Linked DNA regions of Homo sapiens: regions 1, 3 and 4 are each linked to region 2. The links come from fine-mapping of genetic effects on gene expression. A gene starts in region 2. Each other region holds a variant in brackets. All regions are shown on one strand. Distances are between the middles of the regions.

What was found.
Region 1: its variant is fine-mapped to the expression of ATL2 in whole blood (INTERVAL, PIP above 0.99).
Region 3: its variant is fine-mapped to the expression of ATL2 in whole blood (TOPMed, PIP above 0.99).
Region 4: its variant is fine-mapped to the expression of ATL2 in whole blood (TOPMed, PIP above 0.99).

The regions. Positions count from the first base shown.
Region 1 is chr2:38,347,799-38,355,904 of GRCh38, forward strand. The region is part of intron 1 of ATL2 (atlastin GTPase 2); the gene reads right to left. Among named protein-coding and RNA genes, the nearest start is that of ATL2, 25 kb to the right of the region's middle. RefSeq lists enhancers at 3,752-4,252, 5,725-6,226, 6,227-6,726. The variant C/A (reference allele first, on the strand shown) is at 3,949.
Region 2 is chr2:38,373,504-38,381,609 of GRCh38, forward strand. It overlaps ATL2 (atlastin GTPase 2), which reads right to left and starts at 3,770. Exons shown (of 13, transcript NM_001135673.4): 1 at 3,640-3,770. The coding sequence starts at 3,757. RefSeq lists enhancers at 2,862-3,363, 3,364-3,863, 3,690-3,939 and silencers at 3,190-3,689, 3,910-4,069, 4,140-4,189.
Region 3 is chr2:38,325,679-38,333,784 of GRCh38, forward strand. The region is part of intron 2 of ATL2 (atlastin GTPase 2); the gene reads right to left. Among named protein-coding and RNA genes, the nearest start is that of ATL2, 48 kb to the right of the region's middle. The variant C/G (reference allele first, on the strand shown) is at 3,993.
Region 4 is chr2:38,278,526-38,286,631 of GRCh38, forward strand. It overlaps the pseudogene GAPDHP25. Among named protein-coding and RNA genes, the nearest start is that of ATL2, 95 kb to the right of the region's middle. RefSeq lists an enhancer at 1-493. The variant A/G (reference allele first, on the strand shown) is at 4,475.

The DNA.
Region 1 (8,106 bases), 26 kb before region 2:
CTCTGTCACCCAGGCTGGAGTGCAGTGGTGAGATCTCGACTCACTGCAACCTCTGCCTCCTGGGTTCAAGCCATTCTCCTGTCTCAGCCTCCAGAGTAGCTGGAACAACAGATGCCCAATGCCTCGCCAAGCTAATTTTTGTATTTTTAGTAGAGACAAGGTTTCCCCATGTTGGCCAGGCTGGACTCAAACTCCTGACCTCAGGTGATCCACCCATCTCAGCCTCCCAAAGTACTAGGATTACAGGCATGAGCCACTATGCCTGGCCCTGCCCTTACCTAGTTTATAAGCAAATATGATAATCAAATAGCTTGGGGAAATACCTCCGACAACTCAAGAGTATTAAGTATACGTAACACAAAAATTCCATAAAAATTATGAAGCTTGGCTAGGCGCGGTGGCTCACGCCTGTAATCCCAACAATTTGGGAGGCTGAGGAGGGCGGATCACCTAAAGTCAGGAGTTTAAGGCCAGCCTGACCAACATGGAGAAACCCCATCTCTACTAAAAATACAAAATTAGCCAGGAGTGGTGTTGCTTGCCTGTAATCCCAGATACTCAGGAGGCTGAGGGAGGAGAATTGCTTGAACCCAGGAAACGGAGGTTGCGGTGAGCCAAGATTGCGCCATTGCACTCCAGCCTGGGCAACAAGAGCGAAACTCCATCTCAAAAAAAAAAAAATTATGAACCAAGTAAAACACTTTAAAAAAGAACTCAAAAGTAATAACTGCTAAAATATCACAATGACCAAGTGTGGAGGTTGGTGATTTTGCTAAAACAAACAATAGTTTTGCTCTTATTGTAAAGAAAGCATTAGTTGGTTTTTTAGAAGTTTAAGAAAAAAAAAAAACCCAAAAGCCAAAATTGACAAATGGTATCTAATTAAACTAAAGAGCTTCTGCACAGCAAAAGAAACTACCATCAGAGTGAACAGGCAACCTACAAAATGGGAGAAAATTTTCGCAACCTACTCATCTGACAAAGGGCTAATATCCAGAATCTACAATGAACTCAAACAAATTCACAAGAAAAAAACAAACAACCCCATCAAAAAGTGGGCAAAGGATATGAACAGACACTTCTCAAAAGAAGACATTTATGCAGCCAAAACACACATGAAAAAATGCTCATCATCACTGGCCATCAGAGAAACGCAAATCAAAACCACAATGAGATACCATCTCACACCAGTTAGAATGGCGATCATTAAAAAGTCAGGAAACAACAGGTGCTGGAGAGGATGTGGAGAAATAGGAACACTTTTACACTGTTGGTGGGACTGTAAACTAGTTCAACCATTGTGGAAGTCAGTGTGGCGATTCCTCAGGGATCTAGAACTAGAAATACCATTTGACCCAGTCATCCCATTACTGGGTATATACCCAAAGGACTATAAATCATGCTGCTATAAAGACACATGCACACGTATGTTCGTTGTGGCACTATTCACAATAGCAAAGACTTGGAACCAACCCAAACGTCCATCAATGATAGACTGGATTAAGAAAATGTGGCACATATACACCATGGAATACTATGCAGCCATAAAAAATGATGAGTTCATGTCCTTTGTAGGGACATGGATGAAATTGGAAATCATCATTCTCAGTAAACTATCGCAAGGACAAAAAACCAAACACCGCATGTTCTCACTCATAGATGGGAACTGAACAATGAGAACACACGGACACAGGAAGGGGAACATCACACTCTGGGGACTGTTGTGGGGTGGGGGGAGGGGGGAGGGATAGCATTAGGAGTATACCTAATGCTAAATGACAAGTTAATGGGTGCAGCACACCAGCATGGCACATGTATACATATGTCACTAACCTGCACATTGTGCACATGTACCCTAAAACTTAAAGTATAATAATAAAAAATAAATAAAATAGGAAAAAAAAAACCCCACTGGGCAGAAAACCTTTGTTAACTCGAAAATTCACCTATATTAGTTGGCCAGTCACTATGCAACCAAGTTTATTAGCACAGACAAAGACAGGCCTTTCAAATAGACAGAATGTGTCTACATATTTGTCACCATATCTAGTCTACAGCCTTTTACAGAGAAGGGTAGCAAATAGATTTCAAAAGTATAATGGAGCCTAACAATGATGTGATACACCTGCATCTATCTACTTACTCCCCATGGTGATTTCTCTACCAAATATGGACTAAATACAGATAAAGTACTCCATCAAACACTGATATAAGCAAATGAATAAAAGAGAATTGTATGTAAATTTCATTAGGATACCTGTAAATACTGTACTAGCATTTAGTGATTGCCTACAATTAAAAGTCTCTAAATTCCACACCACTCTAAGATTTTAAACTGAAGTTACGTCCTGTGTATAGAATAGTGATTTTATTTCCATTCTTCAATGCCAAAAATTTACTAAGACAAGTAGATTTCAGCCCCCCAACACATTTTTGTGATTCACAGTTCCAAGTCAGTTTTCCCTACGCTAGCCCCCAGATGGGTCTTTCAAGGTCAAAGCTAAAAGACACCTAAAGATGATCACCTGCTTCTCAAACATCTCTCCACACATTAACACTAAGGTACCTACCTAATATCTATTTGCCACACGGCCTAACAAAAGAAAGGTGTCTTAGTAAAAGGACCTGTGATTGCCAGGGGTTAGGGGGATAGGGAGGGATGAACAGGCATAACACAGAAGATTTCTTAGGGCAGTGAAACTATTCTCTATAATACGAAATTGGTTGATACCTGTCATTATACATCTATGAAAAAAACCATTGAATATACAACCCCAAGAGTGAACCATAATGTAAAACTATAGACTTTGGATGATAATGATGTGTTAGTGAAGGTTCATTGATTTTAACAAAAGCACCACTGTGGGTGAAACGCTGATGGCGGGGGACAGTGTGTATATGGAGTGGCAGGGAGTACGTGAACTACAATTTCGCTTCATATTGCTGTGAAGCTAAAATTGCTCTAAAAAAAAAAACCAAAAAAGTCTATTTAAATAAGACACCTGTCTTTTTGTTGTCTAATCACACATTATCTTAAATCTGCCAAATTCAGACACTCAGCATGTATTCCAACAGCAAAATTTACACTTCAGGGCTGACCTAGATCCTCAGCAAATTTCAAGCTTAATTATAAACTAAGATAATAAAAAAGTGCTACAAATCTTCATTATAATAAAATGTAGCATTAATGTTAGATTACATCAACCCAAAACTAAACTTATAAAAAGAGAACAAAGAATAATTCACCTTTCAAAAGGAATGAAAAGTATATTTTATTATTCACATTCCAAACAAAAACTTGAAACAAATTTTCATGGAAAGTAACCTTGATTCAGTCTATTCAGTCTACTTATAAAAAAATTAGTTATCCCACAAAAGCTAAGTAACGTGTTAGTGCCTAGTACTTGAACCTCAACATTTATATTTCATACCCAAGTGAAAACAGTATCTAAGTATTCAAGTTTATTCTAGCACATATTTTTTAAGAGCCTTAAAGAGGTTATACGATGGTTAAATATATTTCTAGGGATTTATTATAAGGAAATAAGGACACTAATTTTATTCTGGTGGCAAAAATTAATGTTGCGTACCTCAAAACTGGAAAGTGGCCGAACAGTTATTTTAGCCATATACTGACATATTATGCAGCCTAAAAAACACATTTACACTCTAAAAAAATTATACATATATATATTTAATTTTTTTTTTTTTTTGAGACAGAGTTTTGCTCTGTTGCCCAGGCTGGAGTGCAGTGGCACGATCTCGGCTCACTACAACCTCCACCTCCCAGGTTCAAGCAATTCTTCTGTCACAGCCTCCAGAGTAGCTGGGACAACAGGCACCTGCCACCACGCCTGGCTAATTCTTTTGTATTTTTACTAGAGATGGGGTTTCACCTTGATCAGGCTGGTCTCAGACTGCTGACCTCAGGCGATCCACCCGCCTCCG[C/A]CTCCCAAAGTGCTGGGATTACAGGCGTGAGCCACCTCACCTAGCCAAAAAAATCTATGTATTATTTTAAACAGCATAAAATTGGCCGGGTGCAGTGGCTCACGTCTGTAATCCCAGCACTCTGGGAGGCCGAGGAAGTCAGATCACCTAAGGTCAGGAGTTTGAGACCAGCCTGGCCAACATGATGAAACTCTGTCTCTACTAAAAATACAAAAATTAGCTGGGTGTGGTGGCAGGCCCCTGTAATCTCAGCTACTCGGGAGGCTGAGGCAGGAGAATTGCTTGAACCCAGGGGTGGAGGCTGCAGTGAGCCAAGATCGCGCCATTGCACTCCAGCCTGGGCGACAGAGCAAAACTCTGTTTCAAAAACAAACAAAAACAACAACCAAAAAAAAAAAAAAAAAAAAAAAAAAACCACCATAAAATCAAGTGGGAAAAGGGCAGACTACAAAGTAGTAAAAATCACCCCCAATTCTATTTTGCATTTTTTAAAACACAGGTATTTGGGGGAGGGAGGATATTTGAGACTTCTAGTCATTAGAGTAACTGGTATCAGACTGGCCCTCGACCGTGGCTATAAAATTAGACAAAATACATGAAGCATTGTTTTTCAAGCAATGGACAACAAGTAGCACAAGGACACTTTCAAGGTGAGTGCCATGATCACTCCCAGCTCTCTGCCTGGGAACAATTTCCTAACTATAGAGTGAAGAACTAGAGCACAAAGATCTGAATTCAAGATTGCTAGAGCAGTAGGAATCTGTGAGGCAGGATACCAGAGAAAAAGGATCTATGCAGAGGTGGAGCCCAGAACTCCTTGGACAAGGACAACAAGCATCACAGGTGCAGGGGAACACAACACTATGCAATGCTTAACAGAAGGAAGCTACTACAGGGTTGAGAGAGAAACAGAAGTCAAACATTACTGAGACACTTTGGAGTTCTGGCCCAGCCAGAGTGGAAAGAAACATCTATACCTTAGGCATCAAGCTGAGACACTAGAATCGACATATCTTAGAATTAAGGGTCAAGTTCTAGAGTAAGGCCTACTGACAATCCATCCAATCAAAGCCTAAATAAAACCAAGACTTGAAAAGATCTGCAAGGTACACAGTTTGGAAATTTAGTCCCACTAAGTTAGGGAGATTTCCTCTAAGCTTTCCACAGACCCACACTAACGAAGTATGAAGCAAAGCCAAGGTCAAGATCCATCAGTAATTAACCTGCTTGCCAAACCAAAAACAAGCTAAGAGAATCCAAAATCTCTACAATGCATAACATTTAATATACAGTATATAAATCAGAAATTACTAGACATACAAAGAAAGAAGGAAATGTAGCCCATAGTCAAGAAAGAAAAGCAGTTAACAGTACCAATTCTGCCATGACCCAGATGCTGAATTTAGCAGACAAATGCTTTTAACCAGATACTGTAAATACGTTCAAGGACTTACAGGAAAATAAAGTCTTAATAAATAAATAGATGAGGAGTCTCAGCCAAAAAACTATAGAAACTATTAAAAAACAAATGAAAATTCTAGAACTGACAAGTACAGTAATTAAAATGAAATACTCACTGGATGGACAACAGCAGACTGTAGGTAACAGAAGAAAGTTTGTAAACTTGCAAAGAGATCAAAAGAGATTTTCTAATCTGAAGTACAGAGAGAAAAAAGAATAAAGAAAAACTAAGAGAGTCTCACGAACCTATGGAACACTATCCAACCTGCATTTAGAATCCCAGAAGGAGAACAAAGTGAGGCTGGAGCTGAAAAAATATTTGAAGAAGCAATAGTCATAATGTTACCAAAATTTGATGACAGAGATTTACAGGTCCAAAAAGCTCAGCAAACCTCCAGTACGGTAATACAAAGAAAACCACATCAGCCAGACTGCTAAAAACCAAAAACCAAAGATAACAGGACACAGAGCAGAATATTCAAGTAATTATTGTATAGTTATGTAATAATTATACAATTATACAGAGCAGAATAATTCAAATAACTGCTGCTTATCACATCATCACTGAAGCACTGGAGGCCAGAAGACAAGGGATTGATAGCTTTAGAGTGTTTTTAAAAGAAGTGTCAACCTAGACTTTTATATTCAGTGAAACGATCATTCAAAAATGAAAGCAAAATAAAGACAGCAAAAGCAAAAGTATGGCCGGGTGCGGTGGCTCACGCCTGTAATCCCAGCACTTTGGGCGGCCAAGGTGGGCAGATCACGAGAGGTCAGGAGATCGAGACCATCCTGGCCAACATGGTGAAACCCCGTCTCTATGAAAATACAAAAAATTAGCCGGCGTGGTGGCACGCACCTGTAATCCCAGCTACTTGGGAGGCTGAGGCAGAGGAATCACTTGAACCCGGGAGGTTGCAGTAAGCGAAGATCGTGCCACTGCACTCCAACCTGGCGACAGAGCAAGACTCTGTCTCAAAAAAAAGCAAAGAGTATCTGTCATTAGCAGATGTGCATTACATGAGAGCTATATAATGTTCTTCAGGCTGAAATGAAACATTATCAAATGGAAAGTCTCTTTATTCCTTCCTATTGATCTGAATCCAAAATAGTAAACAGATACAAATATAAAAGACTGGTTCTTTCTTCCAACTAATCTCCCTAAAAGATAATTGATCAATGTGGGGTTTATAAAGTATGTAGAAGTACAAAATTTTAAAAGACATGTTATGAGGCAAAGTAAATGAAATTACACCCTAAGGTTATGATTTTAAAGTGGAAAGTGGTAAAACATTGATTCTAAATAGGCAGATATATTAAAGATGAATATCATTAGCCCTAGAGTAACGGCTTTAAAACAAACAAAAAGAAAAAAGGTATAGCTTAAAAAGCCAATAAGGGGCCAGGTGTGGTGGCTCACGTCTGTAATCCCAGCACTTTGGAAGGCCAAGGCAGGAGAATCACCTGAGGTTGAGAGTTCGAGACCAGCCTGACCAACATGGAGAAACCCTGTCTCTACTAAAAATACAAAAATTAGCCAGGTGTGGTGGCACATCCCTGTAATCCCAGTTACTCGGGAAGCTGAGGCAGGAGAATCCCTTTAACCCAGGAGGCGGAGGTTGCAGTGAGCCGAGATTGTGCCATTGCACTCCAACCTGGGTAAGAAGAGCGAAACTCTTTCTCAAAAACAAAAACCAAAAAAAGCCAATAAGAAACCAAAATAAAATAGTAAAAAATATTCAATGAACCCAAAGTAAAAAATAAGAACAAAAGACAAAAGAGATGAATGAAAAACACGCAAGATGGCAACCTTAAACCCAACTAAATTCAATAATTACATCAAATATAAATACACTAAACACTCCAATAAAAACGCAGAGACTGCCAGACTGGGTAATAAAAGCAAAACTATATACTGTATTTCTTTGTTGTTTTTGAGATGGAGTTTCGCTCTTGTTGCCCAGGCTGGAGTGCAATGGCACGATCTCAGCTCACTACAACCTCCGCCTCCTGGGTTCAAGCAATTCTCCTGTCTCAGCCTCCCGAGTAGCTGAGATTACAGTCGCCCTCCACCATGCCCAGCTAACTTCTGTATTTTTAGTAGAGACAGGGTTTCATCACATTGGTCAGGCTGGTCTTGAACTTCTGACCTCCCTCATCGGCCTCCCAAAGTGCTGGGATTACAGGCGTGAGCCACTGCGCCTGGCCATACTGTATATTAGAGATGTCCTTTTAATAAAAAGACAGAGCTTGGTTCAAGTAAAGTTTCAAAGTAAAAGGGGAAAAGGTATACTATACAGACATTAATCATAAGAAAGCTAAAGTAGCTACATAAACATCAAAGCTGGCTTCAAGACTAAAAGCATACCACATATAAAATGTGTACTCATCAGAAAGACATAACAATGCCAAGTAAGAAACTCAAAATACACGAAGCAAAAATTCAGAGAACTAAAAAGAAAAACAGATAAATGCATAGTCACATTTGTTTGGTTCTTTTTTTTTTTTTTTTCTTTGAGTCTCGCTCTGTCACCCAGGCTGGAGTGCAGTGGTGCCATCTCGGCTCACTGCAACCCCCGTCTTGCAGGTACAAGCAATTCTCCTGCCTCAGCCTCCTGAGTAGTTGGGATTACAGGCACGCACCACCACGCCTAATTTTTGTATTTTTAGTAGAGACAGGTTTCACCATTTTGGCCA
Region 2 (8,106 bases):
ATATTATCTCCTTGGGAAAACAGAGGATGTTAGTCTTTTATGACTTAAAAGTTGTTTCTAGTAACTATCATCCGACCATACACCACACAGCCATTTGTCTCAGAGTAGGTAGTGAAGGTGGCTACTTAAATACACACATTTTTAAAAAACTGTATCCAAGTTTAGCAATATGTGTATATACCCAAGCACACAGAGACACGTTCCATAACTTGGAAAATCATCTGTAAAAGTTATTTTGGCTTTGCACTTCTGAATACTTCATGCTTCTCCATGACCATAACAAACAGAATTGTTCTACTTCCTTTACTAATTGTTCTACTTCTTTCTATAATATCTACCAAGTATTATCCTATTGCCATCATATTTTCAGGTTGGTACTTTCTTCCTGCTATCCTTTTTATGGGGGAGACAGAGTTTCGCTCTTGTTGCCCAGGCTGGAGTGCAATGGCATGATCTCGGCTCACGGCAACCTCCACCTCCCAGGTTCAAGCGATTCTCCTGCCTCAGCCTCCTAAATAGCTGGGATTACAGCCATGCGCCACCACACCCAGCTAATTTTGCATTTTTAGTAGAGAGGGGGTTTCTCCATGTTGGTCAGGCTGGTCTCGAACTCCTGACCTCAGGTGATCCACCTGCCTCGGCCTCCGAAAAGTGCTGGGATTACAGGCGTGAGCCACCGCACTCAGCCTGCTATCCATTTTTAAAGCCATAGAGAAAGCCCTCGAGTGTTGTGTATCATGTGCTGTGTGGAGGACTAACGGATAGGAAGAAAACTACTAAAGTAATGAATTCACTGTGGAATCAAGTTCAGTTATTCTATGTTCACATCTACATTCCTTAAAGTAAATAACTCTCAAATTTTCTAGAAAGTAAATAATACACCTGGACTTTGAAAACCCAAAATGTCTACAAAATCAGAATACCATTACACGTTAAAAACAAGAAAGAAAAGAAGAAAGCTGCTTCCCTGCACCTATCTGGAGAAAATCTTTGCGCTGTAAAGCTCTAAACCACCATTACCAAAAAGTTTAACTTCTACTCCTATGCCTTACATTTCTGGCTCTTAACTTTTTAAGGGCCTGACAAACAGCTTTGCTGACAATTGTGTGTGTCAAACAGGTCTTCCAAATGACCATCAACAATTTTTTAATACATCTTGCTATGAAGTCCCAAAATTTAAAAAATATATGTTGAACTCCATCCAGCATTATCAAACTAGTTAATCAGTCTCCCCGTACTCTTAGCAGCTAGCTGCCTAATACCAACTGTGGAAAAAGCCTAATTTTGGAAAAGGTCTAACAATTTCAAGAAAGTTACTTATACTTGTGAATATTCCAAAACTTTAAAGTTACAATACAGTCACAGAAAAACGAATCCTGAAATACACCTATGTGCACTCGACTTAAGGCCATAATCTTATTTTCACTCAGGGTTTCTTTTCCCTATAATATCTTTACTGTAAGGCAGCTACTTCTCCCTAAATAATTTCGAAGAATTTCAAAACACTTTACTAAATAGATTTAATCATATCTACAGAATCCTATCAACTTAAAAAGCCAATAAAATGAGTACTTATTTGCTTTCTAAAGATCCTACATTCCTAAAAGAATAAACACAAAGCCTCTCCCTAACACTAAACTACTCAAGTGACACTTGACCCCAACTTGGTTTTTGAAGCTATTTCTCCAGGAAGCAGAGGGAGACAAAGAGTTTCTACACAGTCAAAAATAGATGAGTCCTTTTCATTCAGTCTGTTTCTTCTCACTTTAAACACAAATCCTACCAAGCTCATTTAGTTTTTAACTCATTAATGAGTGACTCGGAGCAAATTAGCAGGTACAGGGACTGTTTTAGGCAATCATTTGCTAGGAATGGCTATCAAGTGAAGGTCTTGCTGATCCGTCCTAAAAAACAAAGGACAAAAACCTATGAGTAGCAGACAAAAGCATTTATTAAATAATAAATGGTGGGCCCTATTTCAACAACAATCTGAAGAGTATCATCTCTTCTCAAGATACCACAGCACAACAACGTTCACAACCATAACTGAAGTATAAATTTATGTTTCTTCTAATAAGGTAAATACATAGAATATTTTGAAACTGCATCTAAAACTCTTACCTCAAAAAAAGGAAAGAAAGAAAGAGAAAGAAAGAAAAGAACACACACTTCTTCCCCTAGGGTCCAACCAAAAGAGCGAAATTAATCCATCCGCATTCCAAAACAATTAATTACTTAAGAAATCCAACCAGCACACATCTAAGGCGAAGCTGCTTCTTTGGTAGTTTTTTATTCTACAGAGTGCTACCACTGTACAAACAGTCAAGCGTTTTGGTTGGCAGACAATAATAAAATAAGCTTTATTTCCTTTTCTTCTTCCCTTAGCAAAACTCCAGTCTGTCATCACCTCTGACATGCGCCAAGAACTACCAGGAATGATGAAGTATATTTCAAATAAACTTTCCTATTAAAGTGAGTCCTTGTGGTTAACATCATACCAAAATGCTTTACATTTTATCCAGCAAAACCTTTACACACCGTAAAAAAAGAAATCTTAAGACACGAGCTCGTATCTGTATTTAATAATAAACTCTTATCTTGGCCGTACTTACCAAATCGTAGGCTTTTACTATTTATAAGCCTTTGAAAAAACTTTATGCCTTTCTTAAGTACCATCAAAATTTTCAATCAGGATTTCATGCGATCAATTCGCACCACAGTGAGAGATCAAACGCTAAACTCCTATAAATAGGGGTGTTATGAGTGAGAGGGATACACTGCGCTGCCAACGCAACTGCGTCTTCGAGGGGGCAGGGGCGCTCCTGGTACACGTACAGTAGGAGCTCACATTCAGCAAAACCAGGGAGCCAAGGATCAGGTGACTTCACACTACAGACACTTTCAGAGTGATCAGGCCTTACTATCGTCCAAGTGACTCGTAAACGGCTCATAACCCCAGTTTGACACGAAAATCTAGACTTGCACCCTAGCCACGCACAACCCGCGCGAATGGGTTCGGGAGCCGAGGAGCCCCGAAACGCGAGCCCGGGGACAGAGCCCTGGCCTGCGGACTGCGGTTCCCTCCAGGAAGGGTGTCTAAGGAGCTTTCGGACCCGGCAGCAAGGTGTCTGCTCCCCGCGCGACCTCCTCCTCCGCGGGGCCCATCATGCCCTGGCCACCCCTTCCTCCCTGTCCGCGTAAGGGACAGCGAACGCCCACCAGCTAACGGGTCGCCCCGCCGCGTCCGGAGCTCGCCGGACGGAGCGGAGCCGCAGCCGACCTCCCCGCGCCCCGGGCAGGCGGCCACGGCTCAAGGCCGCCCCCTAAGGTCGGGGCGGACACGGCGGCAGCCACGCGGCGGGCTGGCGGGCAGGGGGCCGGGCCGGTCGCAGACGCGCGCGCCACTGGTTCTCCCAGCAGCTACTGGAGCCGCGGCCCACGAGCCGCCCTTTCAGGCCGCGCGCTGCGGGAGCGCGGGGCGCGGCTGAGGCTAGGCCCGGCGGGCAGGCGCGGCGGCGGGAGGAGACCTGAACCAGCCGCGGACTCCGACCCCGCCGCCTGCGGCCGGTGCCCGCGAGCCCGAGCAGCGAGCGTCTCTCCCCATCAGGGCCCCGCGGCCTCTGCCTCGCTGGCCCGTACCTAGGGAGGTCGTGGACGAGACGTGGTTAACCGCGGCGCTTGGGTCGCTGGTCCGTCGCCGGCGCCACAGCCCCTGGTGCGGTTGCTGCCCTCGCGCTGCCTCGTCCCCCTCCGCCATCTTGTACCGATTTAAAATTAACTCCCCACTGACGTCAAACGCCGCCGCCGCTTTATCAACCTCCCGGGAGCCGGCGGGGTGGCCGGCGGGTCCTAGCGCCGCTCTCCGCCTGTATCTCCTCGCCCTCCGCCTGTATCTCCTCGCCCTCCGCCTGTATCTCCTCGCCCTCCCTCCGCCCCCGCCCCGCCCATCGCTCGCTCGCTCCGCCCTCGCCCTGCCCGCCTGCAGATCCGTCTCCCCGGCTCCAAGTTTCTGGTTGGACTGGGGCGGGGGTGTCCCTGCCGCCGCCGTCTCACACCCCCACCTCCCTGAGCTCAGCACCACACCCCCTTAGCGCTGGGCCAGGCTCTGCAAACGCAGAAGGGAGCTCCAGAGAACTAAGTCCCTCCCTCCCAATTCGCTTTACATCTCTAATCGTTGATTCGTGCGTCCTGCACGTGAGGTGGCTTTCGCACCCCTTCTCTCCTTTTCATCGCCCCCTCCTCATCACAGCCATTCCCCTCCTCTCTCCCCATCCACCCCCCAAGTTGTTGCCAGTGCCCTGCTTTTCCTCTTGATCTTTTCTTTCCTCACCCAAGTCCCTACTGTTGCTTCCCCTCCCCCCCACCATCCTAAGGTTTGTTTGCATTCGCTCCCCATCTACTTATGAGACCTTCCCCCATCTTCTCAACTGTGTATACCCTGGCCCTGTGCTCCTAGCACCTTGCAGAGGCATGCCAGAAAGCACTCTAATCGGAAAATGAATCGTGGCAGGTTCTTACCTAATTGTGATGAACCTTCTTCTGGGGATCCAGTGACATCCAGTAGAAAGTTCAGGTCACTTTTTAAATTACAAGTCAGCCCGTGGAGGCGTCTGTGAAACATGATCCCTTTGGATTTTTACCATACTGCCAGCTGCATTAGAAATTCCTCTTCTCCAGTAAAAACAGATGTCCGGGTGTACAAACAGCTGTTTTGTCCAGGTCTTTTCATAAGTCTAAAATTCACAGCATGCACAATCTCTAGAAAAGCACTGGTGTTATTAAAGCTTTCAAAATACCATTCTAGGTAGGGCATGGTGGCTCACGCCTCCCGGGTTCAAGCAATTCTCTGCCTCAGCCTCCGGAGTAGCTGGGATTACAGTCCCCCGCCACCACACCCTGCTAATTTTTGTATTTTTATAGACACGGGATTTCACCATCTTGGCCAGGCTGGTCTTGAGCTACTGACCTCGTGATCCACCCGCCTCAGCCTCCCAAAGTGCTGGGATTACAGGCGTGAGCCACTGCGCCCGGCCCATCCAAATATATTTCAACAGAATATGGAGTTTGTCATCATTGTCACATAAATCTAGGAGAATAACTATATACGTGTTCTTGGCAATATTCTTTGAGTTACTAAGATTCTAGTTCTGGGACTTGAACCACCTCCACAATCTAAAGTACAGTTACCCTTCCCCCTCGTTCATATTGATGGCAGGATCTTTATCAACTTGTTAAGTGATATTCCTCTTACGTCCTTGTGATATATGATTTGGAGAGCTCACTTTGTCAAGACATTTTCTGTTTTATCATTGGCCTGAAAAACGTAGTATTGAAAAGGAAGAAAAAGAAGAAGCAGAAGCAGAAGAAGGAGGAGGAGGAGGAGAAGAAGGGCAAAAAAATCTTCACGAGGATTGTTCTACAAAGATTTATTTACTGTCATTTACTCACTAAAAAACATTTGCTTAGGCACATAGAAAAAAGAAACCATTTACAAACAGCACAGCATAGGCCATTTGCTAAATTAAGGTTGATACAGTCAGTGACAACAAAAAGCTACCTGAATCCTTACCAAAGTGCAGTGTTCACCTAAGCCAAATCACCCTCTATGCTTAGTATAGGCAGTCCTTTGGAAGATATTGAATATCTTACATGTAATAAAAGACCTTATGGTTTCCCTCACTGTGCCTTCGATTTTAAGGACTTCAATTCTATCTACTAATCTAGGCTGCTACCCCATGTGTTTCGTGTTTTGCTTTGCTTTTCTCTTTTCTTTTCTTTTTTTTTTCCTTGCCTATGTTCTTCTCTTTTTGGTGTTCTGCCTATCTTGGCTCCCAAACCCACTCTCTCCCCCATCTGTGGTTACTATGCCTGAATCAAGAGAGGTCAAACGCTTATTTAAAAAAAAAAAAAAAAGGCTGGGTGTGGTGGCTCATGCCTGTAATCCCAGCACTTTGGGAGGCCGAGGTGGGGCGATCACCTGAGGTCAGCAGTTCAAGACTAGCCTGGCCAACATGGTGAAACCCCATCTCCACAAAAATACCAAAATTAACTTGGCATGATGGCGGGTGCCTGTAATCCCAGCTACTCGGGAGGCTGAGGTGGGAGAATCACTTGAACCTGGGAGGTGGAGGTTGCCGTGAGCTGAGATCGTGCCATTGCACTCCAGCCTGGATGACAGCGTGAGACTCCATCTCAAAAAAAAAAAAAAATAGGCTGACCCTGGGTACACTGCCTGTGAGTTAGCCCTACTCCGCAAGGAGCAATACCATTCAAAAAAGACTGCTGCTTAACACCACCAGCTCAAAAAAAAAAAGAATTAATTAATTAATTTTTTGCTGTCCGGAAAAAAGTCAGTGATTCCTAAGGAAAATTTTTCCTTGCCACCTCTCAGGGAGACATTCCGTCTTATAACTCTTCTATGGGAAAGCACGGGGTACTGAGAATATGAGAACTGACAAGAACTTGCCCTACAATCATTTTAACCTTCATGGAGATGGTGTAAGATAGAAGGAATGGGCCAGGCGCGGTGGCTCATGCCTATAGTCCCAGCACTTTGGGAGGCCAAGGTGGGTGGATCCCTTGAGCTAAGGAGTTTGACACCAACCTGGGCAACATAATGAGAGCCTGTCTCTACAAAAAATACGAAAATTAGCCAGGCACGCACCTGTAGTCCCAGCTATGGAGGAGGCCAAAGTGGGAGGATTGCTTGAGCCCATGAGGTCGAGGCTGCAGTGAGCCAAGATCACACCACTGCACTCCAGCCTGGGTGGCAAAAAAAGAAAAAAGATAAAAGGAAAGTTCCTCCCTGTGAGAGGTAGAGATTTAGATATCCATTAGTGGAAACCACTCACTTGCCTGGGGTGATATCAGATGGACGGGGCAAGGTTAGAGTAGAGAGAAGCCAAAGACAAATATAAAGCAGTGTTGTCAATAGAAAAGGTGTTGGATATTGCTGAGGCTGAAATGAGATAAACTACACTCTCCGAGAATGAAAAAGGCTGTCTTTGTTGTGGGCAAACTGCATCTCTGCAGACCTTGTTATCTTTTCAGTGATGCGTTTCCTGAAAGTTTTGTTTAAGCTACACCATGCTTGCAAACTGTTGCTCCTTTTCTTGTGCAAGAATGGTTGACAGAAATGAAGAAGTTGTTTCTCTGAGACTATGTGAAATTCTGGACGCAGGCAGAGCTGCTTCAGGGCCAGGTTACAAAAAGCAGAACAGGGCTAGGAAATTTTCCTCACAGACCTGAAGCACTGGAGGTACTACAGAGCAACGAGCTTGACTCAGTCGCCAATATTCTCATGATGGACTCTGTAGGCTCCGTTCGTTGACCTGAGGGGTACAGACCATTGATTTGTCCCAGAAGTTGTACAGTGACTGTGGCTAATGAACCGATTTGCCACAGGCGAGGCTTCCTTTGGGGGAGGGGCCAGGGAGGAAATATTTTGTAGGGACAGAGGGAAATCGGAGTTCCTGCTAGAGTAGATGTGGACAAGAAAATGGACTCTAGTCTTGGCTTTATGTTTGTACTTGAAAAGTAAGTAAATAGAAGAGAATAGAATAGGGACTCTGGGTTATTGACTGGCAGAAAAATTTTATTTATATCCAAAGCTAGTGATTCAGGGTCATTGGGATAGACCTTCTAAAGGAGATTAAATTAAGAACATCAAGAATTGCCAGGTGCAGTGGCTCACGCCTATAATCCCAACATTTTGGGAGGTCGAGGGCGGGGTGGGGGGGCGCGGATCACAAGGTCAAGAATTCAAGACCTGGCCTGGCCAACGTGGTGAAACCCTGTCTCTACTAAGAATACAACAATTAGCCAGGCATGGTGCCTGTAATCCCAGTTACACAGGAGGCTGAGGCAGGAGAATTACTTGAACCCAGGAGGTGGAGGTTGCAGTGAGCCGAGATCCCACCGCTGCACTCCAGCCTGGGCAACAAAGCAAGACTCCATCTCGGAAAAAAAAAAAAAAAAAGAAAAGAAAAAAAAATCAAGGGTTTCTGTGGCTAATATTTGTTGTAGGAGCCTGGACATGGGCGCATACCTCTCTGGCACAGCCATTCATGCTGATACTTGCAGGCATCTTCAAAGGCATGTATTAGC
Region 3 (8,106 bases), 48 kb before region 2:
CACACACACACACACACCAGTACACACACACACACACACACACACACACACACACACACACACACACACACACACACACACACCAGTCCCCACAACAAAAGCCTGCCCTCCTGAGAAAACTACTTTACCAGAGCTTTATCTGACCCTAGGGAGGAGCAATTAAATTAGCCAACTCCAGCCCCATCTAGGCTTCCTGTCTAGTTTAAGGTTTTGTTTGTTTGTTTGTTTAAAAAAAAAAAAAAAAAAAAAAAAAGAGGGTCATAGACCAGGACTCAGGCCCACTAAAAAACTAAGGAGCCAGGTGCAGTGGTGTCTGCCTGTAATCTCAGCTATTCAGGAGACTGAGCTCAGGAGTTCCAGACCAGCCTGGGCAACATAAGGAGACTGTGTCTCAAAAAAGAATAAAAATAAAACTAAGATTTAACCATAAGGTGGCATACGATGCTTCTGCTCTCCTACACTTTACCACCTCATCAACAATGCTCCAATATAATGACAGTGGATTACAAATAAAAAAGCTGCAAGACACAGATTTTGAGTTCAATAAAAGTTCTTGGGAAACCCCAAAGACAGTGAGAGAATAAGGAGAAACTGAAGCCTCTAGGACCTGCAGCTAAAAAACACGTTAAACACAGCCCATCTCCCAACTAGATTAACATATAACCTCATAATAGAAGCCTAAATCTTCAGTCTTTATTACCTGATACTTCATGTCTGGCTTTCAGCAAAAAATTACAAGCCATGCCAAAAGGCAAGAAAAAAATAGACTGAAAAGACAAGGCAAACAACAGAACCAGACTCAGATATGATATATTTCAGAATTAGAAAATAGGAAATTGATCCAGGAAGAGGACAGAACACCAAGCAGGATAAATACCAAAAAAATCCACACTAGGTATATATTATAGCCTAGCTGCAAAGTAACACAAAAAGAAAATCTTGAAAGAAGCCAGGAACAAAACACTTTTACCTACAGAGGAACAAAGATAAGAATTACACTGGACTTCCCATTACAAATCATGCAAGCAGCTGGGAGCAGTGACTCATGGCTATAATCCCAGCACTCGGGGAGGCCGAGGCAGGTGGATCACTTGAGGTCTGGAGTTCGAGACCAGCCTGGTCAATACGGCAAAACCCCATCTATACTAAAAATACAAAAATTAGCCAGGCGTGGTGGCACACACCTGTAGTCCCAGGTACTTGGGAGGCTGAGGCAGGAGAATCACTTGAACCCAGAAGGCAGAGGTTGCAGTGAGCCAAGATCGCACCACTGCACTCCAGCCTGGGCGACAAAGCAAGGCTCCATCTCAAAAAACAAAGCAAAACAAAAATCATGCAAGCAGGAAGGAAATAGGGTGAAATGTTGACAAAGCTGGAAAAAAGAAAAAAAAACCCCACCAAACTAGAATTCTGTATCCAGTAAAGTTATCCTACAAAAGAAGTAAAGACTTTCTTAGCCAAAAACCAAGGAATGTTGTCGCCAATACGTCAGCAAAAAGGAAAATGATATAGGTCAGAAACTCAAATCTACATAAAGAGAAAGAGTATCAGAGAAGGATAATAAGGTAAAATAAAATCTTTTAGGTGGTTATAGTATATAGATAAGGGAAACAAATGACAGCAATGTATAAAAGAGAGGAGGAATTAGGAATACGCTAAGGTAACTGCACTATCCATGAAGCAGTATAATATCTGAAAGTGGACTTAGCTTAGTTGTAAATGTACATTGCAAACTCCAGGCAGCCACCAAAAAACACGTTTAACAGATATATTAAGAGAGTACAGAAAACGCAATCAAGTAAAATGTTCAATTAAAATTGGAGAAGGCAGAAAAAGAGGGGAATATAAAAAAAAAAAAGTACAAAAAAAAAAAAAAAACACCAGAAAACAATTATAAGCATGGCAGCTACAAATCCAATTATATCAACAATCACTTTAGATGTGAATGACCTAAATACACCAATTAAAAGAAACTGTTGGCCGGGCACAGTGCACATCTGTAATCCCAGCACTTTGGGAGGCAGAGGTGGGTGGATCACCTGAGGTCAGGAGTTCGTGATCAGTCTGGCCAACATGGGGAAACCCCGTCTCTATTCAAAATACAAAACTTAGCGGGGCGTGGTGGCGGGTGCCTGTAATCCCAGCTACTGAGGAGGCTAAGGCAGAAGAACCATTTGAATCAGAGAGGCGGAGGTTGCAGTGAGCCGAGATTGTGCCACCGCACTCCAGCCTGGGTGAGAGAGTAAGATTCTGTCTCAAAAAAAGAAATTGTCACAGTGGGTTTTTAAAAAATAGAGCCAACTATATGCTATCTATTTTAAAAACTCCACTTTACAAAGACAGACACAGGTTAGAAGTAAAGGTATGGGAAAAACATACCATGCCAACACTAATCAAAAGAAAGCTAGAGTAGCTATGTTAATTACAGACAAAGCAGTTTTCAAAATAAGGAAACATAAAAACCACTTCAGAACAAAGATTAAGAGTTGCATTACACCAAAATATGTGAAGCAAAAATTGAACTCCAAAGAGTAACAGACAAATCCACTATTATACTGGGAGACCTCACACCTCTTTATAGGTAGCTGACACACCCAGCAAGTAGAAATCCAATAACATAGTCGAGCTGAACAGCATCAACAATCAAATGGATCTGACATTATAGTATATTTCATCCAACAACAGCACAATACATACTCTTCTCAAACTCACAAAGAACATTCACCAAGGTAGACCATATCCTGAGCCTTAAAATACACCTTTAAAAATTTTAAGGGATAGATAATACAAAGTATGCTCTCATACCACAACAGAATTAAACTATTACTAGAAATCAGTAACAGAAACACAGCTGGAAAACTCCCCAAATAGTTGGAGTTTAAAACAACTCACCTCAAAATGACACAGGAGTCAAGGAAATCTCAATAGAAATTTTAAAATATATTGAACTAAAGGAAAATGAAAATACTACCTATTAAAATATATGAAATGCAGCAAAAACCATGATTACAGAATTTATAGCATTAGATGCATACAGTAGGAAAGAAAATAAGATCTAAAACCAATACTCTAAGCTGCCATCTCAGGTAACTGGAAAAGAAGAGCAATATAAACCTAAAGTAAGATGAATAAAATCAGAGCAAGAACTGATGAAATTGAAACAAGAAAACAGAAAATCACAACAGAAAAAACAAATCAGTGAAACAAAAAACTGATCCTTCAAAAAGATCAATATAATTAACTGAAGAGAGAGGGGAGAAAAAAGATAAGACAAACTAGTATCAGAAATCAAAGAAGAATCTTCATTACTAATTCCTTGAACATTAAAAAAATAAAAGAATACTAAGAACTCTATGCCCACAAAGTTAGTAACTTAGTTGAAATGGAGCAATTCTTGGAAAGAAACAAACTACCAAACTCACACAAGGAGAACTAGATCATCTATTTAAAAAAAAAAAAAAAAAAAGGCCAGGCGTGGTAGCTCATGCCTGTAATCCCAACACTTTGGGAGGCCGAGATGGGCAGATCACCTGAGGTCAGGAGTTCAAGACCAGCCTGGCCAACATGGTGAAACCCCCATCTCTACTAAAAATACAAAAATTAGCCAGGCATGGTGGTGGGCGCCTGTAATCCCAGCTACCCAGGAGATTGAGGCAGGAGAATCGCTGGAACTCAGGAGGCAGAGGGTGCAGTGGGCCAAGATCATGCCACTGCACCCTAGGAGACAGAGCAAGACTCCATCTCCAAAAAAAAAAAAAAAAAAAAAAAAAAAAGATCAATAAATAACCTTCCAAAAGAAGGATTTACAAAGCCCAACTGACTTCACTGGAAAACTCTACCAAGCATTTAAGGAAGAAATGGTAGCAGTTCTCTACAAATTCTTTTAGAAAATAAGCAGAGGGAATACTTCCTAATTAATTCAAAGTATTACCCTAATACCAAAACCAGACAAAGATACTACAAATAAAGGAAAACTGCAGACCAGTATATAT[C/G]ATGAATATAAATGCAAAAATCCTTGACAAAATATTAGCAAATCAAATCTAACAATGTACAAAAAGAATTACACACCATGATCAAGTGGGATTTACTCCAGGAATGCAAGGCTGGCTCAACAACTTAAAGTCAATAAATGTAATCCATCATAACAATAGTCTAAAGAAAAAAAATCAGCTGGGCATGGTGGCTCACGCCTGTAATCCCAACACTTTGGGAGGCCAAGTCGGGCAGAATACCTGAGGTCAGGAGTTCAAGACCAGGCTGGCCAACATGGCAAAACCCCATCTCTACTAAAAATACAAAAATTAGCCAGGCACGGTGGTATGCACCTGTAATCCCAGCTACTGTGGAGGCTGAGGCAGGAGAATCGCTTAAACCCAGGAAGCAGAGGTTGCAGTGAGCCGAGATTGTGCCACTGCACTCCAGCCTGGGTGACAGAACAAGACTGTCTCAAAAAAGAAAAGAAAGAAAAAAAAAACACATGATAATATCAATAAATACAGGAAAACTATTTGACAAAATCCAACATTCATTCAGGATTTAAAAAAAAAAAAAAAACTCCCAGCACACTAGGAATAAAGAAAAACTTCAATTAAAAAAAAATCTACAAAAAATCCTACAGCTAACATAGTAGTGAGAAACTAGGTGCTTTCTAGAAACTAGGTTAGAAAACAGACAAGGATATTCATTATTTATCACTTGTACTCAATACTACCAGAGGTTCTAGCTGGGACCATCAGCCAAGACACAGAAATAAAAGGTTCCCAGGTAAGAAAGAAAGAAGTAAAACAATCATCATTTGCAGATGACATGATGTTGTATATAGAAAACTCGAAGGAATCCGCTAAAAAAATTATTGGAACTAATGAACAAATTCAATTTGTTTCAAGGATACAAGATCAATATGCAAGTCAAGTATATGAACTATACACTTGCATGAACAATTCAAAAATGAAATTAAGAAAGCAATTCCATTCATAGTAACATCAACAAAAGGAATAAATTGAAGAAAAGTGCAAAACTTATACTCAAAAACTATAAAAAAATGTTTGGATCTAAATAAATGGAAAAATATCCCATATTCATGGACTGTTAGACTTAATATTGTTAACACAGTAGTATTTCCCAAATTGATCTTTCAGATTCAACCAATCACTGATAGAATCCCAGCTAACTTCTTGTAGAAACTGAGAAGCTAATTCTAAAATTCATATGGGATTGCAAGGAACCCAAAATAGCCAAACAATCTTGAAAAAGAACAAAATGGGACTCACTTCCTCACTTCAAAATTTACTACAAAGCAACAGTAGTGAAGACAGCGTGATACTGGTATAAGAACAAGACATGGCCGGGCGTGGTGGCTCACGCCTGTAATCCTAGCACTTTGGGAGGCAGGCAGATTGCCTGAGCGCAGGAGTTCGAGACAAACCTGGGCAACACGGTGAAACCCTGTCTCTACTAACATACAAAAAAAAACTGGCCAGGTGTGGTGGCTCATGCCTGTAATCCCATCACTTTGGGAGGCCGAGGTGGGCGGATCACGAGGTCAAGAGATGGAGACCATCCTGGCCAACTCGATGGTAAAACTCGATCTCTACTAAAAATACAAAAAGTAGCTGGGCATGGTGGCGCACACCTGTAGTCCCAGTTACTCAGGAGGCGGAGGCAGGAGAATCACTTAAACCCGGGAGGCAGAAGTTGCAGTGAGCTGAGATTGAACCACTGCACTCCAGCCTAGCAACAGAGTGAGACTCTGTCTCAAGAAAAAAAAAAAAAAAAAAAAAAATTAGCCGGGCATGGCAGCGCATGCCTGTAGTCCCAGCTACTTGGAAGGCTGAAGCAGGAGAACTGCTTCAACCCAGGAGGCAGAGGTCGTTGCAGTAAGCCAAGATCGCACCACTGCACTCCAGCCTGGGCAACAGAGCAAGACTCCATCTCAAAAAAAAAAAAAAAAAAATAGAACATGTATACAGATCAATGGAATAGAACTGAGAGTCAAGAAATAAATTCATATATCTATAATCAACTGGTTTTCAATAAGGTATCAAGAGCATTCAATAGTGGAAGTGTTGAAAAGTCTTTCCAAAAATGGTGCTGGGACAAATAGATACATAACCAAAAAATGAAGGAAGAACCCTCTTTCACATCATTATTATGACATATACATATATAAATATATTTTATGTAATTAACATTATATATTAATATGATTATAGCATTATTCCTAATAGTCATAAAATTGCAAACAAACCAACTGTCCATTAACTGATGAATGGATAAAGTGTGGTATATCCACACAAGAGAATATTATTCAGCCATAAAAAGTACTGATACATGCTATAATATGGATGAACCCTGAAAACATTATGCTAAGTGAAGCCAGTCACAAAAGACCACATTTTTTAAGATTCAACTTACATGAATGTCCACAGAGACAGAAAATAGATTAGCGGTTCCTTCAGGTTGAGGGTTTGGAGAAAGGATCTGGGGGTAACAGCCAAAGGGCTGTCACAGGGATTCATTTTGAGATGATGGAAACTTTGTTTCTTTTTGAGACTGTGACTTGCTCTCTCCCAGACTGGAGTGCAATAGCACAATCAGGGCTCACTGTAACCTCAACCTCCTGGGCTCAAGACATCCTCCTGCCTTAGCCTCCTGTGTAGCTGGAACTACAGATACACACCACCACGCTCGGCTAATTTTTTGATTTTTGTAGAGATGGAGTCTCCCTATGTTGCCCAGACTGGTCTCAAACTCCTGGGCTCAAGCAATCCTCCCACCTCGGCCTCCCAGAGTTCTGGGATTACAGGCACGAGCCACCATGCCCCGCCAATGGAAACATTTTTAAATTAATTGGGGTAATAGTTGCACAACTCTGTGAATATACTAAAAACCACTGAACCGCACACTTTAAGTGAATGACTTATATGGTAAGTAAATTATATCTCAGTAACACTGTTAAAGGAAAAACAAAAAATCAAATACCTTTAGTGTACAAGTTCAACAAAGACTCCTAGTCACACAAAACCCACTTGTATAACACTACCAGAGTCCAGGGGAGAATGAATGGCCCACTCAAGTTTCTGTTGACTGTCCATATACTAGTACAATGTGACATAAATCTTATGCCTTGAACTTGCTTCTTGATGAAAGAATTATGGTATACATTCTCCAATCTATACAAAATGTATCCTATTAAAGGAAAGAAATTTGTGAGAACAAAGAAATTCTGAAGCCAGGCTCAATGGCACATGTCTTGTAAGTCCCAGCTACTTGGGAGGCTGAGGCAGGAGGATTGCTTGAGACCAGGAGTTCAAGGACAGCCTGGGCAACAGAGTGAGACTTGATCTGAAAAGAAAAAGAAAAAGAGAAAGAAAAGAAATTCTGAACTAAAATTTATAAGCTGGGCCACGCACAGTGGCTTACACCTACAATCCCAGCACTTTGGGAAGCCAAAACAGGAGGACTGCTTGAGCCCAGGAGTTCGAGACCAAGCTGGGCTAAAAAGTGAGGCCCTTCAGGGTCGATCACCTGAGCCCAGGAGTTTGAGGCTTCAGTGAGCTGTGATTGTGCCTCTTCACTCCAGCCTGGGCAACAGAGCGAGACGATATCTCTAAAAAAGTTAAAATAATTTTTTAAAAAATGTACAAGCTAAATAGCAAAATTGTCCTGGCAGAGTGAGGGAAGGAGGTAGGGAGTTAATTACCTTAAAAAAAAAGTCTCCTCCAAAAACAGTTAGTATTAACACAAAAGGAACTTATATTATACAAGATGGCTTAACTCCCTAAATGTTCTAAAACTGGTGGTTGAGTAGTCAGTGTTTATGAGTAACAGTTTGTTGCTTGAGGTATTTTTCAATAAATAGCCTAAATAAAACCAGTTACTTTAGAAACAGTTAATGTAACCTACTGGAACAAAGAGTTTGGAATGAAAAAAGATCTGTAATTTATGTTCTCTCAAATCCAAAATGGAAATATGTGATGATAGGGGTGCCATAATATTTATGATACTGCAAAAGAGGCAATACATACATTTGGGACTTAAAGCTGGAAAAGCTGCAAAGGACAGAGTATTTTCAGGCAACAGGTTCAGGAACGTAACCAAGAAAGT
Region 4 (8,106 bases), 95 kb before region 2:
ATTACCCTATTGTCCTGCGACATCCCCTTCTCCGAGAAACGCCCGATAATGATCAATAAATACTAAGGGAACTCACAGACTGGTGCTGGTGTGGGTCCTCCGTATGCTGAGCGCCGGTCCCCTCGACCCACTTTTCTTTCTCTATACTTTGTCTCTGTGTCTCTTTCTTTTCTCAAGTCTCTCGTCCACCTGACAAGAAGCACCCACAGGTGTGGAGGGGCAGGCCACCCCTTCATCACTTGAACACTTAGAGGTCATCGTAGAGTTATTAATTGGCCTAATTTCAATGTTGTTGTGTCTCAGGGAAAAGGGAAGCCTGAGGAGAGGGAGAGTGATGGGGGAAGGCCAGTGGTTGGAACATTCGGAACACACACAACATGTATCAATTAAGTTTGTCATCTTCTTTGGGCACAGTTTGTAGTGCCCCAATTACAATAGTAACATCAAATATCACTGACCAGAGATGATCATAACTGATATAATAATAAAGAAGATGTTTGAAATACTGCAAGAATTACCAAAATGAAACAGAGGCACAGACTGAGCACATGTTGTTGGAAGCATGATACCAATAGACTTGCTTGAGGCGGGGTTGCCACAAATTTTCCATTTTAAAAAAAAGCGTGATATATGCAAAGAACAATAAAGCAAGGCACAATGAGATGAGGGTTGCCTGGCCCTATCTATGCACCTTCGTTGGAGCAGCCTAGGCTTACCTGAGGAGTCAACACAATTTGCATGTGTGGGGCAATACTAAAGGGAATATAGGTAAGTAGCAACGGATGTGACATAGACAATGGCTAGAGGACTCCACACAAGGGAAATATCAAATGGGCCTGACCTCTCAGGCATGAAGAAGCTGAGCCTTGGGAGACATAGATATGAATCACCTACACAGAACGTGAGCATTTCACACTGGGGGAAGTGAATGAGTAGAGACAGATGGAGCACTGAGCATGCCCTGAGATGCTCTGGAGAGAGAAGCAGCTTTTCTTCTGTTTGATAAAGTTGATCCCACCTTGCTTTTTTTTTTCTTTTTTTTTTGAGACAGGGCCTCTCTCTGTCGCCCAGGCTGGGGTGCAGTGGCCAGGTTGGTTTCAAACTCTTGGCCTCAAGTGATCCGCCCACCTCGGCCTCCCAAAGTGCTGGGAATCCAGGCAGGAGGCACCGCACCCAGCCCCACCTTGCTTAAAGACTCTGTAATAGCTACCTTAATGATATGCTAATTTTCCTCATGTCATTTCTACTGGACCTAAACCTATAATTATATCCATTTATCCCATGAGGCCAATTACAAAGTCGAACCCTAGAGAAAACACATACCAAAACCAAAAAAAAAAAAAAGCTTTTCAAATTTTGCTTATTTACTCAGAAAACCTGAGTAATACTATTCGTGAGAATGGATTCTGTGGATGATAGATCATGCTAGATTGGGCTACATTGTAACAAGAATTCACTTTAGAGATTCCAAAGTTAAATGATTAGGCAAACTAGGAGAGGTTCTAATGGTTTGCCCTAGGACATAATTCTAATTATGTCCTAAAATCTGGACTCAATAGTGACCTACACTAAATAAAGTTGAGATGTCAGGAATTCCTGAGTACAATGTAAAAGACTGTCTCCCCAGCCACTCCAGTGCCTGCTTGATAGCTTCAGGAACCCCGTCATCATGGAAGGAGGAATGAAGGGGACACTTGGGCTCAGCAAACAGACTTCACACCGAAGCTAATCTGCCTACGACCATGGCTGAGAGCCCAATCTGTCAACTCTGAGCTTCCAGTACGGTACAGGAACCCAAGGAGATTAGTTTGGCATCTGGTTAGAAGGTTACAAAGAGCCGGGCGCGGTGGCTCACACCTGTAATCCCAGCACTTTGGGAGGCCAAGGCAAGCGGATCACCTGAGGTCAGGAGATCGAGACCATCCTGGCCTATGAACATAGTGAAACCCCATCTCTACTAAAAATACAAAAATTAGCTGGCTGTGGTGGTGTGCGCCTGTAATCCCAGCTACTCAGGAGGCTGAGGCAGGAGAATTGCTTGAAACTGGGAGGCGGAGATTGCAGTGAGCTGAGATCACACCACTGCACTCCAGCCTTGCAAGAGATCAAGACTCTGTCTAAAAGAAAAAAAAAAAAAGGTTACAAAGAACCACTTTCATCACAGAAATGCTGCAATTTCTCTCCACTGAGACACTCATTCTGGCTATGGATTAGATTCCCCTGCATGGTATCCTTTGCAGACATACTAAATACCTTAATCATGACCATAATATTCCACCCAAAGGTGCTTTTATTTATTTATTTTTGAGACAGAGTCTGGCTCTTGTCGCACAGGCTGAAGTGCAATGGCACGATCTCAGCTCACTGCAACCACTGCCTCCTGGGTTCAAGCAGTTCTCCTGTCTTAGTCTCCCGAGTAGCTGGGATTACAGGCTCCTGCCACCACGCCCGGCTAATTTTTTTGTATTTTTAGTAGAGACGGGCTTTCACCATGCTGGGCAGGCTGGTCTCGAACTCCTGACCTCAGGTGATCCGCCTGCCTTGGCCTCCCAAAGTGCTGGGATTACAGGCGTGAGCCACTGCGCCAAGCCCCAAAGGTGCTTTTTATGAAGAAATTTATTTTACAACGAAAGTAATAATGCAATAAGCCAGTGCTCACAGGATATATGGCAAGACCAGTGAATGCTTTTGCTGTGAAGCAGGTAACTTTATAGAATGGCAGAATGGCCTTCTGAACTCTCCAGTACCAGCCAAGAGACAGCACTTTGTAAAACTGGGTGTTGTCCTACCATGTGCAGGACACATGCTGTTAACAGGAATCGAATGGTATTTCGCCAACAACCAGAATTTATGTCTGGGTATCAATAAATAAAAGTGAGTGTGACAACTTCCACTTTAGATTTTTCGATCCAATTGCAAAATGTTTGTTTGCCATCCCTGTGATTTTAGATTCTGCTAGTTTAGAAACATGAATGTCCAAGAGAGAAATGTTTCATCAGAGCAATGCTTCTACCAGTTGAGGCTGGCACTCACCATTTCAGGCTCCTTACACAAAATCACTAAACAAGCAAATAATGGGTAGGGGCAGGGGGGAGGGGCAGTGTTACCATTTTATCTGAGGTCATTGATCCTGAGCATCAAGGGAAAATAGGATTTGTACTACATGAAACAGGCAGGTAGGAATGTTTGGAAATTAGGGGATCCTCTGAGGGCTCTTCTCATACTGCCTTGTTTAATGGTGAAAGTTACCAAAGGACTAGAGCAACCCTAGAGAAGTAGAGGACCATCAAGGGCTCCAATCCCTCAAGAATAAAGGTTTGGGTCACTCCACCAGGTAAAGCCAAAGGTGTGGCTAAGGGCAATGGGAACAGGAGATAAGTAAAGGTCAACTATGGCCTTATTTTTCTCCTTCCTTGGTGGGTTTTAAATATATAAGTATGTATACTAATTCTTTTTATGCCCCTTCATCCTTCTCCAATTATTCTATATAATTGGTCAGTTACTTTTACAATTTATATATAATTTTCGGGATATAAAGATGGAATGGTAAACATCAAACAAAAATCTTGAATTTAGAGCTAACTGCAATAAATTGGGATCTGGGGCTTCCTCTTTTGAGGAGGGAGTAGCATGTTTTGTATAAGGGATAGTGGCATGGCTGTTCAGGTTGGAGATGTGAAGATAGAGTAAGGGTCTATGTTGACCTTGCACAGCCAGAAAGTGAACTGCAGGGAACTCCGTCATTTGAGCCTACTTTGAGTCTTTCAAACACACTCTCCCCACTTTAATCACTCCCCAAGTGTTAATCCTTCATCCCTCATATAGAATAATTTTTATATAGTGCATTGAAATTAGGCTATCAACAGGTGTATTAGCTTCTACCAATCAGAGATACATACACAAGACTTTATTTTGAAAATGAGTTTTCTATGGCTAGGCGCAGTGGATCATGCCTGTAATCCCAGCACTTTGGGAGGCCAAGGCAGGCCGATCACCTGAGGTCAGAAGTTCGAGACCAGCCTGGCCAACATGGTGAAACCCTGTCTCTACTAAAAATACAAAAATTAGCCAGGCATGGTGGCAGGCACCTGTAGTCCCAGCTACTCGGGAGTCTGAGGCAGGAGAATCACTTGAACCCGGGAGGCAGAAGTTACAGTGAGCTGAGATTGTGCCACTCACTGCACTCCAGCCTCGGCGGCAGAGTGAGACTCTGTCTCAAAAAAAAAATGAAAATCAGTTTTCTGAGAAAGACCAAGACAGGTATTTCACTGGCTCAAGGGCAGCAAAGGCAGCCTGGTGATGAAGTCAGTGGTGATGGCAGCTGTTTCCACCACCCACGGCAGAGGCTATGTTATGGCTCCAGTTCTTTTACATGCTCAATTTTGAGGTATGGTTCTGGGAGCTTTCCAAAAAGGTAAGCCTAGCTTCTCTAAAACTTCTGTGGGTTTCAAATAGCCTTTGTGCTTCCCTTCCT[A/G]CTTAAATTATCTAGCATGCATTCCACTGTTAGAACAAGGAAGGCTGATGCATATAGGAAAGTTTCATAGCTGTGCGCCTGTGGACAATTGGCCCTGCCACTCTCAGCCTCAGTTTCCTCATCTTTGAAAACTTTCAAGCACTGTTGTAAAAATTAGAAACGTTACAGGCAAAGTAACTTATATCTAGGAAATACTTACATCATGACTTCTCAATTCATCAAAATATATTCAAAGTCTACTTCTTTTCATGTGACCCAGGGTCATTATTATCGTGCACCTGGACTATTTCAGTCACTTCTTAATTAATCTTTTTCTACTCTATCCCCTCCTTACCCTCAAGTCTATTCTCATCACAATAGCCAAGATGACCCAATCAAAATTTAAGTCCACTTCAGTCACTCTTTTGCTCAACATGACCTAATGGTTCCCAGTTTCCGTCCTACTAACAATTCCTTTCAACAGCCTACAGGACCTCCAAGGCCATGCCCCCTAATACTTCCCCGATCTCATCACTTTCTGCCCGTTGTTCATTCCCTCCTAGTCAGACTCACCTCCTTCCTATCCTTTTAACATGATACCCACACTCATTCTGCAGGCCTTAGCATGCCTGTTCCTTTTCTCTGGAATACTCTTCCCCAAAATATTTGCATGGCTCATTGCTTCATCTCCTCCAAGTCTTTGCTCAAATGTTGCCTCTCAAGAATGCTTACCCTCACCATCCTATTTCAAATAGTAAACCCTCGCACCCCCAGCACTCCTCATCCTATTCTATTTTTTTCTATAGCACTTACCACATTCTAACAAACCACTGAATTTACTTTATTACATTTTTGCCTGACTTTCTACAAAGACTGACATTTTTGTCTCTTTTATTCTTTGACATTTCCCTAATGCCTGTAACTAGTACCTGATAAATATCTGTGAAATGAATAAATTGATCAAATGAATAATTACTGCTCCTACAACTGCTATCCTCCTGCATACAACATATGGTACCATATAAATATTTGGTATTTATACATGACATATGGTACCTAATAAATACTTGTGGAATGAATAAACTGAATGATCAAATGAATGAATGAATGAATGACTGTTTCTATAATTGCTGTATTACTACTACTGCTACTACCACTACTGCAGCCCTCTTCCTTGGCCCTTCCAACTTCATTTTCTACATTCACCTTGAAAAATTCTGCCTGAGCAAGAAGTCAGATTCAGAGCAGGAAGTTACTGAGTCAACAGCATAATCTTTCCTCAGGTTCCTACAACTGTAATGATAACTATCTCAAGAACACAAAGCTTTTAATTCTGAAATGCAATTTTGTTTGGGGGATAGGAGAAAGAGAAGGTAGAAGGAAGGTACTGGGTGTTTTCATTTGTTTGTACTAAAACATGCCCTGGTCAATGAAACCTAAAATGATTCATGCTAGATGTGCAACTTGTAAAGAATTAAGAGGTAAGGTAGATGGATCCCCCTTAAATTTTGAGAAAATCAGTGATGCATAGAGCTCATGCCACCCAACGTGGCAACGCACATGAATACTAAGTTCAACCTCTTGTAGTGGATGGTCAGGGACATTGGTGATAACAAAGATATTCATGAGACAACTGGGGAAATTTGAATGCTGACTGGATATTTGATATTAAGTAATGATCTATTATTTTAGGATAAAGGTATTGTGGTTACTGATATATGCTGAAGTATTTATGAGAGAAATGATATAATACCTGGGATTTCCCTCAAAATAGTCAAGCTTCAGATGGGGGGAATGGAAGTGTGTAGATAAAACCAGACTGCGTATGTGCTGATAACCATTTAAACTGGGTGATGGGTACATGAAACTTCATTACACTATTCTCTCTACTTTCATGTTTGAAAATCTTCATAGTAATGTCTTTAAACATCCTTTTAAATCTGCCAGGCTATAGGTAGATTTAAAAATTTTCTGACTGACAATTGGTTGAGTTTATCTGAAGACCTGGGATAAATAGAAAGGAAATGTCTGGGTTAAGATAAAAGATTGTGGAGACCAAAGTTCTTATTTGCAGAGGAAGTCTTCAGGTAGCAGGCTTCAGAGAGAATAGGCTGTAAAACGTTTCTTATCAGACTTAAAGTCTGTGTTGATGTGAATGCCTGAGAGGTTTAATGAGGCATGTCCGACCCCCACTTCCTATCATGGCCTGAACTGGTCTTTCAGGTTTAATTTTAAGAGTGCACTGGCCAAGGACAAAGTCCATTCAGATAGTTGGGGGACATCTTAGAATTTTATTTTGGGTTGACAGCTGAGTACCTATTTCAGAATTGTGATAATGCAGTTGAAGATACTCTAGTCAGGGCTCTCCGCTCCTCCCATTTGACAGACAGCCATATCTTCTCGTGTAGCACCAGCCACATCCTGAGATACCATGGTTAAGGTGAAGGCCAGAGTCAACAGATTTGGCCACATTGGGCACCAGATCACCAGGGCTGCTTTTAACTCTGGTAAAGTGGATATTGTTGCCATCAGTGACCCCTTCACTGGCCTCAACTACATGGTCTACGTGTTCCAGTGTGGTTCTACCCATGGCAAATTCCATGGCACTGTCAAGGCTGAGAATGGGAAGCTTGTCATTAACGGAAATCTCATCACCATCTTTCAGGAGCGAGATCCCACCAAAATCAAATGGGACAATGTTGACGCTGAGTACATTTGGGTGTCCACCGGTGTCTTCACCACCACAGAGAAGGCTGGGGCTCACTTGCAGCAGGGAGCCAAAAGGGTCATAATCTCTACTCCCTCTGCTGACGCCCCCATGTTCATGATGGGCGTGAACCATAAGAAATATGAAAACAGCCTCAAGATCATCAGCAATTGCCTCCTGTACCACCAACTTCTTAGCCTCCCTGGCCAAGCTCATCCATGACAACTTTGGTATTGTGGAAGGACTCATGACCACGACCCACACCATCACTGCCACCCAGAAGACTGTAGATGGACCCTCCAGGAAACTGTGGTGTGATGGCCACGGGGCTCTCCAGATCATCATCCCTGCATCTACTGGTGCTGCCAAAGCTGTAGGCAAGGTCATCCCCGAGATGAATGGGAAGATTACTAGCATGGCCTTCCGTGTCCCCACCACCAATGTGTCGGTCATGCATCTGACCTGCCATCTGGAAAATCCTGCCAAATATGATGACATCAAGAAGGTGGTGAAACAGGCATCAGAGGCCCCTCAAGGGCATCCTGGACTACACTGAGCACCACGTTGTCTCCTCCAGCTTTAACAGTGACACCCACTCTTCCACCTTCAATGATGGGGCTGGTATTGCCCTCAATGACCATTTTGTCAAGCTCATTTCCTGTTATGACAATGCATTTGGCTACAACAACAGGGCAGTGGACCTCATGGCCCACATGGCCTCCAAGAAGTAAGACCCCCAGACCACCAGCCTCAGGCCCTCAGCTGCTAGGAATCCCCTATTGCACTAGGTCTCCTACCACACTGAGAATCTCCCCTCCTCACAGTTTCCATCCAGACCCCCTGAAGAGGGAGGGGTCTAGGGAGCCCCACCTTGTCATGTACCACCAATAAAGTCCTCTGTGCTCAGCCAAAAAAAAAAAAAAAAAGATACTCTAGTCAGCAGGAT